Regions from separate parts of the Homo sapiens genome. Here region 2 is linked to region 1. A link means that fine-mapping ties the variant in region 1 to the expression of a gene that starts in the linked region. Tissue or cell type: tibial nerve. Region 1 holds a variant in brackets; the other region holds the start of a gene. All regions are shown on one strand. Distances are from middle to middle.

Evidence for each region. PIP is the estimated chance that this variant, and not a neighbour inherited with it, causes the effect.
Region 2: B3GAT1 starts here. The variant in region 1 is fine-mapped to the expression of B3GAT1 in tibial nerve (GTEx, PIP 0.95).

Annotation. Positions count from the first base shown.
Region 1 is chr11:134,797,495-134,805,600 of GRCh38, forward strand. No RefSeq gene overlaps it. Among named protein-coding and RNA genes, the nearest start is that of LINC02714, 66 kb to the left of the region's middle. RefSeq lists an enhancer at 4,270-4,770. The variant G/A (reference allele first, on the strand shown) is at 4,740.
Region 2 is chr11:134,407,652-134,415,757 of GRCh38, forward strand. B3GAT1 (beta-1,3-glucuronyltransferase 1) reads right to left here and starts at 4,591. Exons shown (of 6, transcript NM_054025.3): 1 at 4,156-4,591. RefSeq lists an enhancer at 3,180-3,739.

The DNA.
Region 1 (8,106 bases):
GCCTGGAGTATAGTCTGCCCCCAGCCTCGGTGATGCCATTTTGAAGCCAAACGTGAGAAGCTTCTAGATTACCAAAGTATCTTAACCTTAGTGACATCAGAAACTCCCATGAAACTTTTCAACTCTCCTACCGCCCGGGACCGCTTCAGGTCCATCAAGCCCTGATTTCTGGTGGTGAGGCCAGGATACCTGTGTATTATCAATAATTTCACTGGTGAATTTGATGCAACCCCAGGTGAAGACCCATTGATTTAAGCCAAAAGTCTTTATTTAAGTGTAAACTGAACCAGGTAAAGTGTGTTGTGCAATATTTATTATGCGACAGCCGAATGGACCGGAATTTTCCAGCCACATGCCTCAGAGGTGCTGTGGCTGAAAGGGAACGGCCACATAACTGGGCAGCTGTGGAGAGGCGAGCGGGGGGCAGGCTGCTGTGTCAGTGCGGGGCCTCCGCGGCTGGGCTTAATCACTGTGTGGCCAGCTGACGCCCTCTGGCTTTTCTTTTTTTAATTAAATAGATAAATTCTGTGTTTCACTTAAGGCGTATTGTTTACCCTGCATGGGTCTAAAGAGCAGGGGCTAGAGAGGCCATGCGGTCTATTTAGCCAAGGCTCCAGCAAATGGTTCTCTGGAGCAACAATGGCAAACGGAGGGACTAGTCCACTGTGATGAGCAAGTTTCATGTGACAGTGTTGGAGAGTTAAACTTCAGAACGAGGACTTTCTCATGGCACAGGAAACTATAGTCAAAGGCCATAAGGATGGTGTTGGATGGGGGTGTGGACCACGTGGATGGAGGAACGCTGTGGTCTGTACGAACAAACTCTTTTTTTTTAGACAGAGTCTCACTCTGTTGCCCAGGCTGGAGTGCAATGGCACAGTCTCAGCTCACTGCAACCTCCACCTCCTGGGTTCAAGCAATTCTCCCGCCTCAGCCTCCCTAGTAGCATGGACTACAGGCACGTGCCACCAAACCTGGCTAATTTTTTTGTATTTTTAGTAGAGGCGGGGTTTCACCATGTTAGCCAGGATGGTCTCGATCTCCTGACCTCGTGATCTGCCCGCCTTGGCCTCCCAAAATTCTGGGGTTGCAGGTGTGAGCCATTGCGCCCGGCCATGAACAAACTCTTAGGGGAGAGGAACAGAGGGGGAGCGAAGGAGGGAGGATGGAACCTGCCTGCCCTGGCCGGCCAGCTCCTGGAGGCTGCACGGAGGAGCCCAGCAGGAGCTGGAGACTGATGTGAAGACTGCAAGCCTGGTAGAAATGCCAAGCCTAAGCTGTATCCATAAATAATAATGACTTTATTTTCCCCCATTGCTAATTAGAAACAATAATATACAAGGAAACAGAAGTTACTTAATGTATAATTATTCAGTCAGCAATTTTCAAATCATAAATATGGATTGCTGTGAGTTATTGCGTTGGAGTCTTCTGAAATAGAGCACAATATGCAAATGTGATTAACACAGCCATGCGCCCAGTCACTCTAAAAGTTGCTTTTCCTTTCCTTAATAAACTGATTGTTGCAGCCAGGTGTAGGTCGTTAGCATTGATAAGCAGAGGTCCCTTTCCACCCTGTTTCCTGCCTCTTTCCTCTCCTGCAGATGGAAAGAGTGAGATGGGCCAGCAGGTTCCTATAGGATGAGCCCTCGAGACCTGAGACCAATGCTGATCTGATAAATAATTGGCATTCTGTTTCAGGAGGCGGAGGGCTAATAAGCTTTTCCAAGGTAAAGTGTGGAGCTCTGCAGAGCATTCTGGGAGGACAGCACAGGTTCACATCCCACCCTCACTTCTCCTGGGTGATCCCAGCCCCCTGCTCATATCCCACCCCCGCCTCTCCTGGGTGATCCCAGCCCCTGCCCACCCACGTGGCAGCCTCACCCCAGCCCAGACCCATCTTCTGAGCTGCGGGCTCTTTATGTGACAGCCTCACCAGAATAACTCACTGCCATTCCAAACGTAAAGCACACAAATGCAAGCCTTGATCCACGTCCTCCTTCCCTCATCGATCTGTTCCTACTTCAGCCTTCATTATCTCCAAAAATCACACCAAGCCAGAAATGTAAGAACTGAAGCCAGAAATTGCTCATCAGAAATGTAAGAGTCACTTTGACGCCTCCTTTTCCTTTCTCCTCACTTCTAATCCATAAGCAATTTCTGTCATTTCCACCTCCAAAATAGACTCCCTTCCCTCTGTGCCTTCACAGCCACCGTCAGGACCTGAGCCACAGTCATCCTTCACGGCAGACCACAGCTCCCGCTGTGAGGCCTAGCCAAATCTAAGCATAGTTCCTTCACTGCTCCTCCTGATTCCAACCTTATCTTCCTCTAACTCATTCACCATAGAAAATCCAGTGTGATCTTTCAAAGTATACGTTAACTCGGGAGGCTGAGACAGGACGATCACTTGAGCCCCAGGAGGTCAACGCTGCAGTGAGCCATGATCCTGCCACTGCATTACAGCCTGGGTGATAGAAGGAGGCTTTGTCTCTCTCTCTCTATCTCTCTCTCTATATATATATAAATTTATATTTATATAAATATATATGTATGTATATATATTATGTGTGTATAATACACATATATACATACATATATATACGTATATTTTACACACAGATAGATAGATAGATACATAGATACCATTTACTTCTTTGCTGAAGACTCGTCAGTCTCTTCTTATCAACACGCTAAGCCCGGAGCCCCAACCCGGTCAACGTGGCCGTGTGGCGCGGCTGCCCCCCGCTGCTCTCTGCCAGCTGCTCTCTGCTGACCTCCCTCAGCCACCGTGGCCTGCTCTTGGTCTCTTGGATTGCAGTGCTTTCCTGCCTCAGGACTGAAACGTGCTGTCCACCCTGCTGGACACAGCCTGGGTCCCCACCTCCCGCTGGCTTTCCCGTCTCCTCTTTCAGAGCCCAGGTGCCTGTCACCTCGAGGGAGGCCACAGCGCAGGTCTCTGTGCCCTCTCCCACGGCGTCTAGACCTGGATTTTCCTGTCACCTCACAAATCACAACCATGGATTTCTCTTGTTTTCACTCATCATGTTTGTGAGTGAGCAGCTTTGCTGTGGAGTTGGGGAAAGAAGCTCTGACCAGGATGCAGGGCCGGGGTTGCTTCCCATGGAGCCGCCGCCTCTCCTTCCACCTCTGGGAAAGCCTCTGTGCCTCTTCTGACCCGGCACCCTTCCCTTATATGAGAGAATTGAGACAGGCAGCCTTCACGGGTCTGAATTCAGAATAATAAGAGATGTTTTCACTCCCAGCATCACTGTGTGGGCACCTGCTGTGTGTACAAAGGGCCCCATGGTGCCTCAGCAGTTACCTTGTAAAATGGGGACTTCGTGGGTGAAAATTTTAATCAAGAGGCCTATCCAAGTCTAAGTTTCTCTGCAGGGTCCAAGGGGCTGTCTGAAATTGCCCTCTGTGTCTGTGAGCATTTGGCTGACAGCAGCGAGTGGGAGGGAAGACAGCGCTGCGTGCACCAGCTGTCGGAAGCTGAAGCCCTGGGGAATGGTTGGATTCACTGAGTGGGCAGTGGGCGCTTGGAGACTGACATTTTTCAGGAGCTCAGTATGGAGTGCCTGCGTGATTTTCATGAGAATGGGCAGTACTAACTTCAGAGCAATTGGGGAGCCCAGTGTCACGGATTCCTCCCTCACAGACAGCTGCGGGCGAGAGGGACGCTGGCCCCTTATCCAGGGTGGCCCCAAGTGTCTGCACCAGGTCTGCGGTGGAAGCAGCTGCAGCAGGAATGAGAGAAACAGAAGACTTAGATGTGAGCCCTGAAATGTTAACTTTATTTCCTAAATGAGGTGATGCAAATAAGTGAGGGAGACAAAATGACCGACTGGAAGCAGCGAGCGACACCAGCAGCACTGCCTCCCCGCCGATGCTGGCAGGAGGCTGTGTCCAGATCACACTCTCTTTGGCCACTTCAGATGCAATTCAGTTACCAGTTCTCACAGTAATGAACCTGCCAGGCTGGAGAACCAGTCTAAATGCCCGTGTGCTTTTCAAGCTTCCTGGTTCTCCTCTTTGGCTTGAGGTACACGATTATAAAATAAGAGATATGGGAGCAACAAGACCATGTTTCCTACAGGTCCAGAATGGGAGAAGGCTGAGGCAGTGAGGACTCGAGAACATGGGCCAGTCAGCAAGTCAGGGCAGAGAAAGGGAAGGAAACAGGGCAGGAGGAAGGGAGGGAGGGGAAGAGAGGGATGCGGGTGGGGTGGGGGAAGGGGTTGGACAGGAAGCAAAAAAAAGAGGATGAGCTCAAGAGACGGGAGAAAGAAAAGGAGAGGGAGAGGAGAGAGACGTGGTGGAGGACATGTGAGAGGTGGGGTGGCTAAGAGGAGAAGGAGACGAGCTTTTGTCTGGGGCATGTGATTTGCATACCCTCAAATAAAAGTGGACCCAGGCAGATAAAATCAATTACAGCATATATGATACTGAGAAATTCACAATCTGTACACAAACACAGCAGCAATGCCATGAGCTCATTAGCAACCTGCAAATACAAAGAGAAATGCATGTTTGCGGCCGTCTATCCTCATTGTTTCATCCCCTGGCCCCCAGCTCCTACGGACCAAAGAATGTCATTTCCTTCTGATGAAAAGTTTTTCTCTGACCCTAGTGCTCTTCTCTATTTTCAATTTGAACAGAGTCTCCATTGCTGTACCTTACTGGGTTATACAATACCCTGTGAATGAAGCCTTTCAATCAACCTGCATGTCAGC[G/A]CATTGCATAGCTCCTCAGCCCCACAGGCTCCAGCCTGCTTGCTGCTGTGCGGTGACACAGCCTCCTCCAGCTCTGGCAGTTGTGCTGTGTCACATTCCTCTGAAGACCCGTGGCTAGTGTGCAGCAGACTTCTCTTTTGTCTGGAATCTCCTGCTCCTCACTAGAGGATGCTGGAAGGGCACTGGTGCCTGCAGGCTGTTGTCTGTTACTTGCTTAGAATGTCATTCCACCAGCCTTTGTTAAGGGAGTGAAGTCCGTGGAGGTACACGAAGACGAGGGAGGCTCATTCTTTGTGCTGATGTTGATCTCCACCTGACTCACGAAATAAGTGATTCACAGAAGACTATTTTTAATCTTTAACAAAATTTGAAATATTATAGATTCACAGGAAGTGGCAAAAATACAATCCAGAGAGTTTCCCTGTATTATTCAAAAGTTGGATTTTATACAACTACACACCATATAAAAAGCAAGAAATTAACATTGGAATGCTGTGCGTATAGTTCTCTGTTCATTTATCATATGTGTAGATTTGTGTAATTGCCACTGAATCAAGATGTAGACTCATTGCATCATCACTCTTTGTGATCTCTCTAGTCTTATTCATTTACGGTCATATTCAGCCTCCTGCCCCCCACAATCCCGAATCCTCATCAACATTAATTTTTTCTCCATATCTACACTTTTATAACTTCAAGAATGTTATAGAATCTCTATGTGACCCTTAAAGATTGGCTTTTATTCACTCAGAATTGTGCCCCTGAGAGGCATCCAACTGGTTGTATGTATCAAAACTTTCTTTTATTTGTAATTCTCAGTAATGGTACGGATGTACCACAATTTGTTTAACCATTATCTTATTGTAGGGTATTTTGATAGTTTTCAGTGTTTGACTATTGCAAATTAATATAATATAAGCACTTACATTCTGTGTTTTGTGTGAACATAGGTTTTCAATTCTCTCTCCAGGTGTGCAATTGCTGGATTATATGGTAAGTATATGTTAGTTTTTTTTAATTTCCAAACTGTACTCCACAGTACCATGTTATAACCCCACCAGCAATGTATGAGAAATCACATCCTCAGCAGCAAGTGTTATTGTAGCTAATTTTTGTTCTTTTGGTGGGTATTTAGTGATAGCTCATTATGGTCTGAATTTGCATTTCTCTGATGGCTAGTTATACTGAACATCTTTTCATGTACTTATTTTTGATTTGTACCTCTTCTTCAGTGAAATATCTATGTTTTCGCTAACTAGTTAATTGAGCTGTTTCTATTTTTATGGTGAGTTTAGAGAGTTCCTTATATACTCTGGATAGTAGTCCACTGTCATGTATGTGTTTTACACATGTTTTCTCACAACCTGTAGGTTGTATTTTATTTCTTTTGACACGGTCACTTGTAGATTAAAAGTTTTAAATATTGATAAAGTCCAATTTATTGATTTTTTTTAACAGATCAGGGTCCTGGTGCCATATCTAAGAATTCTTTACCAAGCTCTTGGTTTTAAAAATTTTCTTTGTTTTCTCCTAAAGTTTTTATAGTTTTTCAATTTACAATTCTATTCATGATCCATTTTCAGGTAATTTTTGTGTAAAGAGTGTGGTTTAGGTTGAGGTTCATTTTTCCCCGATGCTGTTTATTGGTCAAGCATCACTGGCTGGAAAGACCCTCCTCCCTCCAGTAGCTGCTTTTGCAACTTAGTAAAAACTCAAATGAGCATATCTGCATGGTTCCATTTCTGTTTCATTGATCTGTCTTTTGTCCAGTATCACCCTTTCTTGATTACTACAGACGAAGATGCTCCTCAGTTGTTGATGCGGTTTTCTCCCAATAACTCTAATATAAATTAAAAATATCGTAAGTTGACACCTAACCTATCAAACATCAGAGCTTAGCCTCGCCTACCTTAAACATACTCTGAAGACTTATGTTTGGGCAATATTATCTAACACAAAGCCTATTTCATAATAAAGTATTGAATATGTTATGCAATTTATTGAAAACCGTACTGAAAGGAAAAGCAAGATGGTTGCATGGGTTCTCACCATCAACATACACAGCTGGAAGCGTGCTGGGCCTGAAGAACGTTCAAAGCCCTGAACTAAAATTAACTGCTGGACGATGGTTGTGCTGCAGGGTCACCAACCTCTCTCTTTTCTGATATGGCTTGGGAATTGCTGCTGGAAGGCTCTAGGGCACCTACACTTATTGGTGGTTTAGCAGGAATCGTGTTCCTCAGGAAGATGTCACGAATCAGTATCGGTTGCTTACCCTCGTGATCTCGAGGCTGACTGGAGCTGAGGCTCCCTGCTGCTGCCCAGCCCTGTATCACAGGGCATATCACTAGCACAGGAAAAGATAGAAATTCAAAATTTGAAGTGCTGTTTCTACTGAATGCATATTGGTTTTGCACCATTGTAAAGCTGAAACATCCTAGGTCAAGCCATCATAAGTCGGGGATCATCTGTATATTGTAGGTGTTAACTTCAGATAGAATGACTCCTCCCACTGTTTTTCAAAAGTGTTTTAGCTATTCTAGTATTTTTTCATTTTCATATACATTTTATAACAATCTTTTCTATATCCACAAAATAGCTTGCTGAGAATTAGAATTTGTTGGCAATGACATTAAACTTGTATACCAATTTGAGGAGAATTGACATCTTTATTATGCTGAGTATTCCAATCCAGGAACACAGCATGTCTCCATGTGTTTAAACGTGTTTTAAATTTTTCATCAGTATGCTGTAGTTATCGTCATATGATTTGCATGTATGATTTATTAGATTTACATCTAGGTGTTTCATGTCTTTGGTGATTATAAGTGGTTTTGTATTTTAAATTTTTCTTTCCATGTGTGCATTGCTAGTATATAGAAATGCAATTGATTTTTGTATGGCTAACCTTGTAACCATGCTGAAATTACTTACTCGTTCTTGGGGGTTTGTTTTGTTTCGGGGTTTTAAATTCCTTGGGATTTTCTATTGAGGTGATCATGTGATTTGCAAGTAGAGAGAGTTTTATTTCCTCCTTTCTGATCTGTATGCCACTTATGGCTAGAAGTTCCAGTAGCAAGTGGAATGAGAATGGTGAGAGCAAACACCCTAACCTCGCTCTTGATGGGAGTGGGATGCATTCAGCATTCACTATTCAGTGTCCTGTCAGCTGTGGAATTTTGGAGATGATCTTTATCAAGTGATAGGAGTTGCCTTCTAGTTCCAGCTTTCTGAGTTTTTTTTTTTTTTACGAATTTAATTGGTACTGATTTTTGTCCAGTGTTTGACATAGTCATGTAATTGTGAGTTTTTTTTTTTTACGAATTTAATTGGTACTGATTTTTGTCCAGTGTTTGACATAGTCATG
Region 2 (8,106 bases), 390 kb before region 1:
GCTGGTGTGTGCGCAGGGAGCGCAGGCTCATTTTAATATTGGCTGGAGCTAAACCTCATTAGAAAAGTAAATTTGCTGTAGCTGCAAAAAAAAAAAAAGCAACCCACATAACCCTTCCAAAGCTAAACAGAAAACACTAGATTTGGACTTTTGGATTATTTGATGTTTCACGTTCCCAGCACCTGGTGCAGAGCCTCCAACACCGTAAGTGCTTGGTCAGTGTTGGTGCAAGTGAACTGAATTTTGGGGGCTCTCTGACCACCCTGTCACCTTTCAGCATGGATAAGAAGGGCTCACAGATCTGGAATTTTGGTGTCAAGATTTTTTTTTTTAGACGACCATTTGCTGATAAATTGGAAGGATTACATTTAACAATAATTAGACACGAAAGTATTATTTTGTGTTTGGCAAGGACGAACTCTGAGCCAAGGCGGGCTCTGGGTTCTTTGGGTTGGGATAAGGAAGGGTGGGTCCAGCCCAGAGTCTGGAGGTGTGAGGACTCAAGCGGGTGAGGAGGGAGGTGGGACAGCCTGCACCGATTCCAGTGGGGTGAGGAGGGAGGTGGGACAGCCTGCACCTATTCTAGTGGGGTGAAGAGGGAGGTGGGACAGCCTGCACCGATTCCAGTGGGGTGAGGAGGGAGGTGGGACAGCCTGCACCGATTCCAGTGGGGTGAGGAGGGAGGTGGGACAGCCTGCACCGATTCCAGTGGGGTGAGGAGGGAGGTGGGACAGCCTCCACCGATTCCAGTGGGGTGAGGAGGGAGGTGGGACAGCCTGCACCGACTCCAGTGGGGTGAGGAGGGAGGTGGGACAGCCTGCACCGATTCCAGTGGGGTGAGGAGGGAGGTGGGACAGCCTGCACCGATTCCAGTGGGGTGAGGAGGGAGGTGGGATAGCCTGCACCTATTCCAGTGGGGTGAGGAGGGAGGTGGGACAGCCTGCACCTATTCCAGTGGGGTGAGGAGGGAGGTGGGACAGCCTGCACCGATTCCAGTGGGGTGAGGAGGGAGGTGGGATAGCCTGCACCTATTCCAGTGGGGTGAGGAGGGAGGTGGGACAGCCTGCACCGATTCCAGTGGGGTGAGGAGGGAGGTGGGACAGCCTGCACCTATTCCAGTGGGGTGAGGAGGGAGGTGGGACAGCCTGCACCGACTCCAGTGGGGTGAGGAGGGAGGTGGGACAGCCTGCACCTATTCCAGTGGGGTGAGGAGGGAGGTGGGACAGCCTGCACCGATTCCAGTGGGGTGAGGAGGGAGGTGGGATAGCCTCCACCTATTCCAGTGGGGTGAGGAGGGAGGTGGGACAGCCTGCACCGATTCCAGTGGGATTGGCTCCAGGGCTGGCCTGACGCTGCTACTCCAAATTCTAGAGCCATCCTCATCCTGGAAGCAAGGGGGTGAGGGTGTATAAAATAAATAGATTAAATTAAAATTCATCTAGTATTTCTTCTAAAAACTGGTGAGATGACAGTTTCCCAATTTATAGACTGCCAGGAAGCCGGGGCTTAGAGAGCTCTGTTTTTTTCAAAGTCTACTCGGCTAGCCACAGATGGAGATGAGACTGGACCTCAGACAGCCTGGCCAAGGGCCTGTCCCCACTGCACTTCTTCCATGTCCCCTGGCTAGTCTTCAGTAGGGTCCCCAAAGGTCTTTTTGCCTGGGGGCCTGGGGAGGGGGTGCATGACTTCTCTTCTTCTCCTGAGTGCCAGGTTTCCCCAGACCCCACATCCTTCCCCACTGCCCTGCATTCCAGGACCAGGAGGGCTGGGGCAGGGCCAGAAGATGGAGAGGAGCCCTCAGCATTGTGAGATGCTCAGGGGTGAAGGGTGTCCCTGAAAGTCCCTGCAAGCTCTTGATGTGCTTGACCTCATAGCCTGGCCTCCCTCTGCCTTTGGGCTTCTGTCTAAAAGACCCTCACATTCCTGAGAGCCACAGGAAAGCACCTTCCTCAGTAGAATGTCCAACTGCTCTAGTGAGGGGCCTCCTGCAGGGGTGGACAATTGCTGAGGTCGATGTAGGGGAACAGGGGGAGGCCCCCAGCCTGCCCCAACTCACCACTCAGTCAGGGAGGCCCTGACTTCTGCCTGTGTGCCTCCCTCTGCTGTCCGCCAGTGCGCCTCCGTGCCTTTGTCTCTTGTCTCACTGCCTCTTTCTCTGCCTCAGTCAGGCTCTCTCTCGGATTCCTCCTCCTCCTGAGCCCGTTCCTCTCCTCCTCTCCATTCTCATCAGAGAGGAACACTCATCCCTCTCTTCCAGAAACAATGGAGCACCATGCTCCTGTCCGCTCAGCCTTTCGGTTGGTGCATCCTCTTCCCCATCTCACACTCCCAGCTCCTGGCCGGCCTCATCACCCTGTGCTCCACACCTAGGAAAAGTATATCTGACTTGGTCCCCTTATCCCCGAGAAACCACTAAGAGAACCTTCAGGTCTCCCCAGAAGCCGAAGCTGAGGAACTGGGCTTGCCCCAGGGCATCCTCCTGTGAAGCTCCTTGGTCTCCGCCACGGGCTCCAATCCTGTTGCTGGAGCTTATCTCCTCAGTGATTTACCTGCCCCCTGCTTCTGGTGGAACAGTGAGTAACTGCCCAACCAGAAACCTACACACACATATTCAACACAGCGCCTGCAAGCTTCCAGCTCACCTGGACCTGGAGTGATCCCCAAGCATCCTGGGGTCAGGCACAGAAACAGGAACAGCGAGCTCCTGGCTCCAGTGCTGAATGGGGCACAGATGCATTAACTCTCCCAGTCCCATTAACCTTAGCAAGTATTTCTGCTTCCATGAAAAGGGGAAGAGGGAAAATGTCTCTAAGCTCTGGAACCTTTGGCAGTGCTGGGCATGGACTGGGCAGAGTGAGAAGTCTGTCTGAAGACCCTGGGAAAGGGTCTTCACCCCATGGGAAGAAAGGGAAGGCTTGATGTTTGGTCCAGTAAGGCCATTAATGGTCACCAACTGAGCAGACTCTGGGAGGAAATGTCTCAGTCTCTGCAGTGGCTACCAGCAGAGGTAGGGCGACATAAGCACAGAAGACAAATCTTAGAAAACCCTAGAACAACAGTCCTGTGCAGCCACATGCCCCACAGCCCTAGTAACTTAGGGAGTGATGTGCCTCCCATTTCCACACAAACACATCCAGGCATTGCACAGTGCTAGGCCCTACGACATCCGTACCCCAACATTTTCAACAGTGCGTGCTACACAGCCCAAGCTCTAGGCCCCATTGGGCACCCCACCTATGCAGGTGCCCATGCACTGGGCTAGCAACTGTCAGTAAAGGTCCCCTTCCTGTATGTCCAGAGTCCTTCAGCTCCAGCTTCTACAAGAATCCATGCAGCTAGGCCTGGCTGGGGGAGGAAGGGGACAGGGAAGTTGGCCAAGGCTCCCATGTGTGTGCATGTGGGGGTGGTTCTTGACCTTAGCTGCTTGGTACGGGGCTGTCACCTCCTTACCCTGGCACTGTCGGACCTGGTGGCTTCCTTCTCTATTTCCTGCCTCAACTCTCAGCCTCCTTTTTCTGGAAGTTGTGTGCTCTGACTTTGGAGGGATTGGGACCTCAGACCTGAGCCCAGGTGCAGATGGGAGGGTGGTGAACTGGTCGCGCCTCCTTCCTCCTTGCTACACCGAAGGTCCCAAGGGCCCTTTGCCACCCTTGCTACCCCTGGGTCCCTCAGCGCGCCCCGCAGAGCTCGGGCCCCCTCAAGAGAGTTAACTTGGCAGTGCCCAGGAGCCAGAGAGCGATCCAGAGAGCGCTGTTGGGCAGCAGGGGTGGGGAGGTGGGGGACGACTGACCCCTGACTCCTCATCCGGCCACCAGAAACCACCTGCTGAGGGGGCCGGGAACTGACGACTGAGAGCCCGGGCCGATTGTTAGAAGCTGCTGAGAACCAGCTCTTCCCCTAATCCCGGTCGACGAGGGCAGGCTGTGCCGGGTTTTGTTTCGCAGCCCCTCGGCAGCAGCGCCTCCCAGCCCGAGCTCGGTTCTCGGCCCCCTTTCCAGCTGCCCCCAGCGCGCGCAGCGCACACACACACACACACACACACACACACACACACCCCAGCGCGCGCCCGGGAGGACATGGCGTGGGCACCGATGGGGACGCAGAAAGGGGCTCTGTGCGCGGCGGGGCGCCCGCGGGGGCGCGGGGAGCACTGACCTGCGGCGACGAGTCCGGAGCGTCTCCGGTGCGGTCCATCGCGGGCAACGGCCCCTACGCCCCGGCCCCGGCGCCCCTAGACCGCTGCCCTGGGCCGCGTGCGGCTCCCTCCCCGGGGACTGTCGGGCTCCGGGCCCCCGGGGGCCACTTCATAGCCGCGGGGTCCGCGCGCCCGCCCGCCCCGCCCGGCCCCGCCGCCCCGGCCCGGCTCGTTCTGGGCTCAGCGAGGCGGCGGCCGAAGGCTGGGAGCGCGCGGGAGGGAGGGCGCGGGCAGGGAGGCGGGGGGCGGGGGGCGGGGAGGGGGAGCGGGGAGGGGGAGCGGGGAGCGGGCGCGGGGGCGAGAGGGGCGAGGGGGGCGCGCGGCCGGAGCCGAGCCGACCGGGCCGGCGCAGAGTCCCCGAGGTGGCGGCGGATGCGCCGGTGCCGCCGCGGCTCTGCCGGCGCCTCCCGCCCCGCCCCCACCCGCTCTCCGCCCCCGCCCCGCCCCCGCCCCGAGCCCGCGCCAGCGCCGGCGGGACCCGAGCTGCTAATGGTCGGTACCAACCTCGCCAGCCTAGGCGGGGGCGCGAGGAGGGAGGCCGGCGAGGGGACCCCCCCCCGGGATTGGTATCACCTCCCCACCGCCCCCCACCCTCCCCCGGCACCGTCCCCCGCGGAGGCGGCTCCCGCTTCAGGCGGCGGAGCAGGGGTGGCGGGCAGGGGCCGAGCGCACCCCCAGATCTCGGCTCTCGAGAGTTAAAGCTCGGCCCCCGCCTGCACCCCCATTCCACCCCGCCTCCATCCTGGCTGCTCCTGGCGCCCAGCTTGGCAGCCTCTCTCAAAGGGTGATTGTTTCCGGCCGGGCTGCTGCAGGAGGGCGGGGGGCGGCGCTCTGGGACCGAGAGGCCGAGCTGGGAAGCCGGTGGGGGATGCGGCTCCTTCCTTGGCTCCAGGCACCCCGGATGGGAGGTGGCCGGTGGGGGCGGACGGTGCCGTGCCGGGGTACGGGGTCTGCTGCCCCGTGGAAGGGCACCTCGAGCCGCCGCGCGTCAGCCTCACCCCAGCCTCCCCTTCCGGGCCGGTGCACCCGGCGTTCCGGAGAGAGGCCCGGGAGGCCTGCGTGGGCGGACGGGCGCGGGGAGGCCGGGGGCAGCGGGATCTCCAGGAGTTTCCCGGGCCTCTGCCGCGGTGTGTTGGTCGGCGGGGGACGGAGGCCAGTGAGTGGGCGCGCACTTGGACGTATGTGGGTGCACTGGTAGGGTGCCTCTGTGGAGCTGTATATTCCAGATACTCCTTCAGCTTGTCGGAGACTTTGAAGCCATCCTTGCACTCGTTTTAGAGGTTGGCATCTCCCGGTGCTCTTGGACACCTGTATTCGGGCCACACCCGCTGTGTCCTCTTCACAGCCCCAGGAGAAGGCCACCTCCCATGGCGGGGTTCGCGGCGGGACCAGGGACTGTCGGTACTTTCTCTAGGGTCTCCCTCCTTCCCGGGAAACCAGTTCCAGCCCCACTGCTAGGCACTGCTTAACCAGAGCTGTGCCCCCGTGCTATGGGCTGGGGCTGAGGACCACGGGCCTCTTTTCCATCAGCTTTCCTGCCCTGTTAGGACCAAGCCGGGCCCTGCTCTTCCCACTGAGGATGTGCAGGTGGGGAGGGGGCAGAGACTCCAGAATCAGCCCCTTTGGTCAAGATTTTGAGGGGAGGAAGGCACCTCACCGTCCGTATCATGCCACAGACATGTGAAAGTGTCCTTAGTGACTATCTCTAGGGATAACTGCTCCTCCTTGTCGTGCGCTCTTTCATTGTTGTGCTTAACAGCCCCCTTTGCCGGCAAGAAACTTCCTCTGAATCTAACCTCAGTACCTCCTGCTGCGGTACAGGAGCATTTCCCCCTTCTCTTAATGAGTGGAATCCCAGCCAGCCTTGCTCCGCCTTCTTCTGCCCCTACTACAACCCTCTCTTTTAGACTCTGCTAAGAGACCTTTCCTAAGTCGGTGTTCTCTGGTATTTTCCTAGTCTCCATACTCTGCTTCTCCTTAGACTCCACACCAGCTGAAGGGAGGGGAAGGGCAGGTGCAGAAGCAGGATGGGCGGGGGTACCAGAGAGCACCAAGGAGGGGCCAGGCCGTCCAGGAGGGCACATTGCCTCCCTCCTCTGCTAAGCCAGCCAGCCGCAGTCACACAATCACCAAATGGGAGGACAGAAATGACCGTGAAGACTGTCTCGTTCCAGACCCTCATTTTACCAACAGGGAAACACACCCATGAGGGGTGATCTCAAGAGAGCTCAGGGACATGGCGACGAGGAGGCCTGGGTTTCAGGCCGATTCTGAAGGCACTAGCAAAAGACTTCCCCTCAGGGCTGGTTTCAGTAATGAAACAGAGGGTTGGACTAAGTGGGCTGTGGTCCGACTTGTCCTGCTGGGCTGTGGCTCGGAGATGCTGTCTGCAGGGGTTCTCGGCTTTACCTCAGCATTCTGGCAGGAACAATTGTGATAATAAAGCCGCTTTCAAGGGACCTGTCTTGCATCTTAGTTCCAGGCTCTGTTTACAGAATTTTTAGTATTAATTTTTAGAGCCAATTTAAAACAATAATAGGAGATTAAAATTAGCATGATAAGGCTCAGTGAAGAGACAACAGCCTGCCATTCGTTTTGGTGGGAAGTTTTGGCAACATCCCAAGTGTATGGACACACACAAATGTACTGACATCTACGCAGGCACAAAACATGCTCATAGAGGCAGCTACACATGCAGATTCACCCACATGAACACACACACACACTCTGAAATACATCATGTGCACATGTAAACGCTTGCACACGGATGTACCTGAAGCACCTGCACCCACACAGACACACGTGTACACACACCATCCCCCGGGTCAGCCACACTCCCACCCCTGTCTTCCTGCTTGGCCTCTGCAGGACTGTGGAAATCCTTCCCTCCCATGTCTGGACTTGGTGCATCCTCACAGCTTGACCCTTGCTCCAAACATCTGGAGCACCTCTAAGGTCTCCCTGAATGATTGATCTTCCCCTCCCCCTGCCTTCCCTGCCAGTAGTGAGCCCCTCTTCTCAGAGGCCCCCAAAGCCTAGCACCAGCATGTTTAGTATGCAAAGCCCGGGTTTGTCCTCTGGGACAAACCGTTATGTGTTTATTGTGTAGTTAAGCAGGACGGGAGCCCTGCCCCCGCTCTGATCCTGGCCCACTTCCCATAATCTGAATCCCAGAAGAGTCCTGTAAAACCGTCATCTGCAATGCAAAACCTGCAAAACATCTGGGATGGTCTGTAGGTTTTCTCCAAATCACCTGTGCCCTAATTTAATATGAATAACAATTAGTTTACTCTTATCAGTTAATTGTTCCCCTCGTGGGTTCTGTCTGCCCTGGCCTCTCTTTCAGCAGGAGTTTTGGTCTGCTCCAGACTCCTAATGATACTGCCTTTTCAGCCGTGCCGTCCTTCTTAGCTACCACCCAAGAGAGGCAACGCAGCTGCGCTGCTTGCCGCCCTGGCCTGTGGGGCCCAGGCCCTCACCCCACCCGTCTTAGCCAGTCTGATTGTTGGGGGCCATCCAATCTCCCCTTGCCTTCACCAGGAATCTATAGCAGTGATTTTGCTGATGTGAGTGGAAAGGTCCCAGTGGGATTCTTCAGTGAGGAATCCCACCCCACAAGGTGCCCGTCCTCTCCCGTCATTGCCCTGGCAAGGGTGACAGCACATGCACATGCATGGGCACACCCAGATGCTGCCAGAGAGCAGGGGGAGTGAGAGGAGGAAGAGCTGCCCTCTGCCTCGGCAGGCAGGGTGAGCTCCCCAGGGACCCAGCCATGCTATCAGGCGTGTCTGAACTGTTCCCACAGTGGCTCCTGGACGGATGTGTGTGGATGTGCTGTTTTGGGTGGTGGAGTTCATGGCCCAGATACAGAAAGAGGAGGAGACCTTTTAACTCTTCCCTTTCATTAGGTT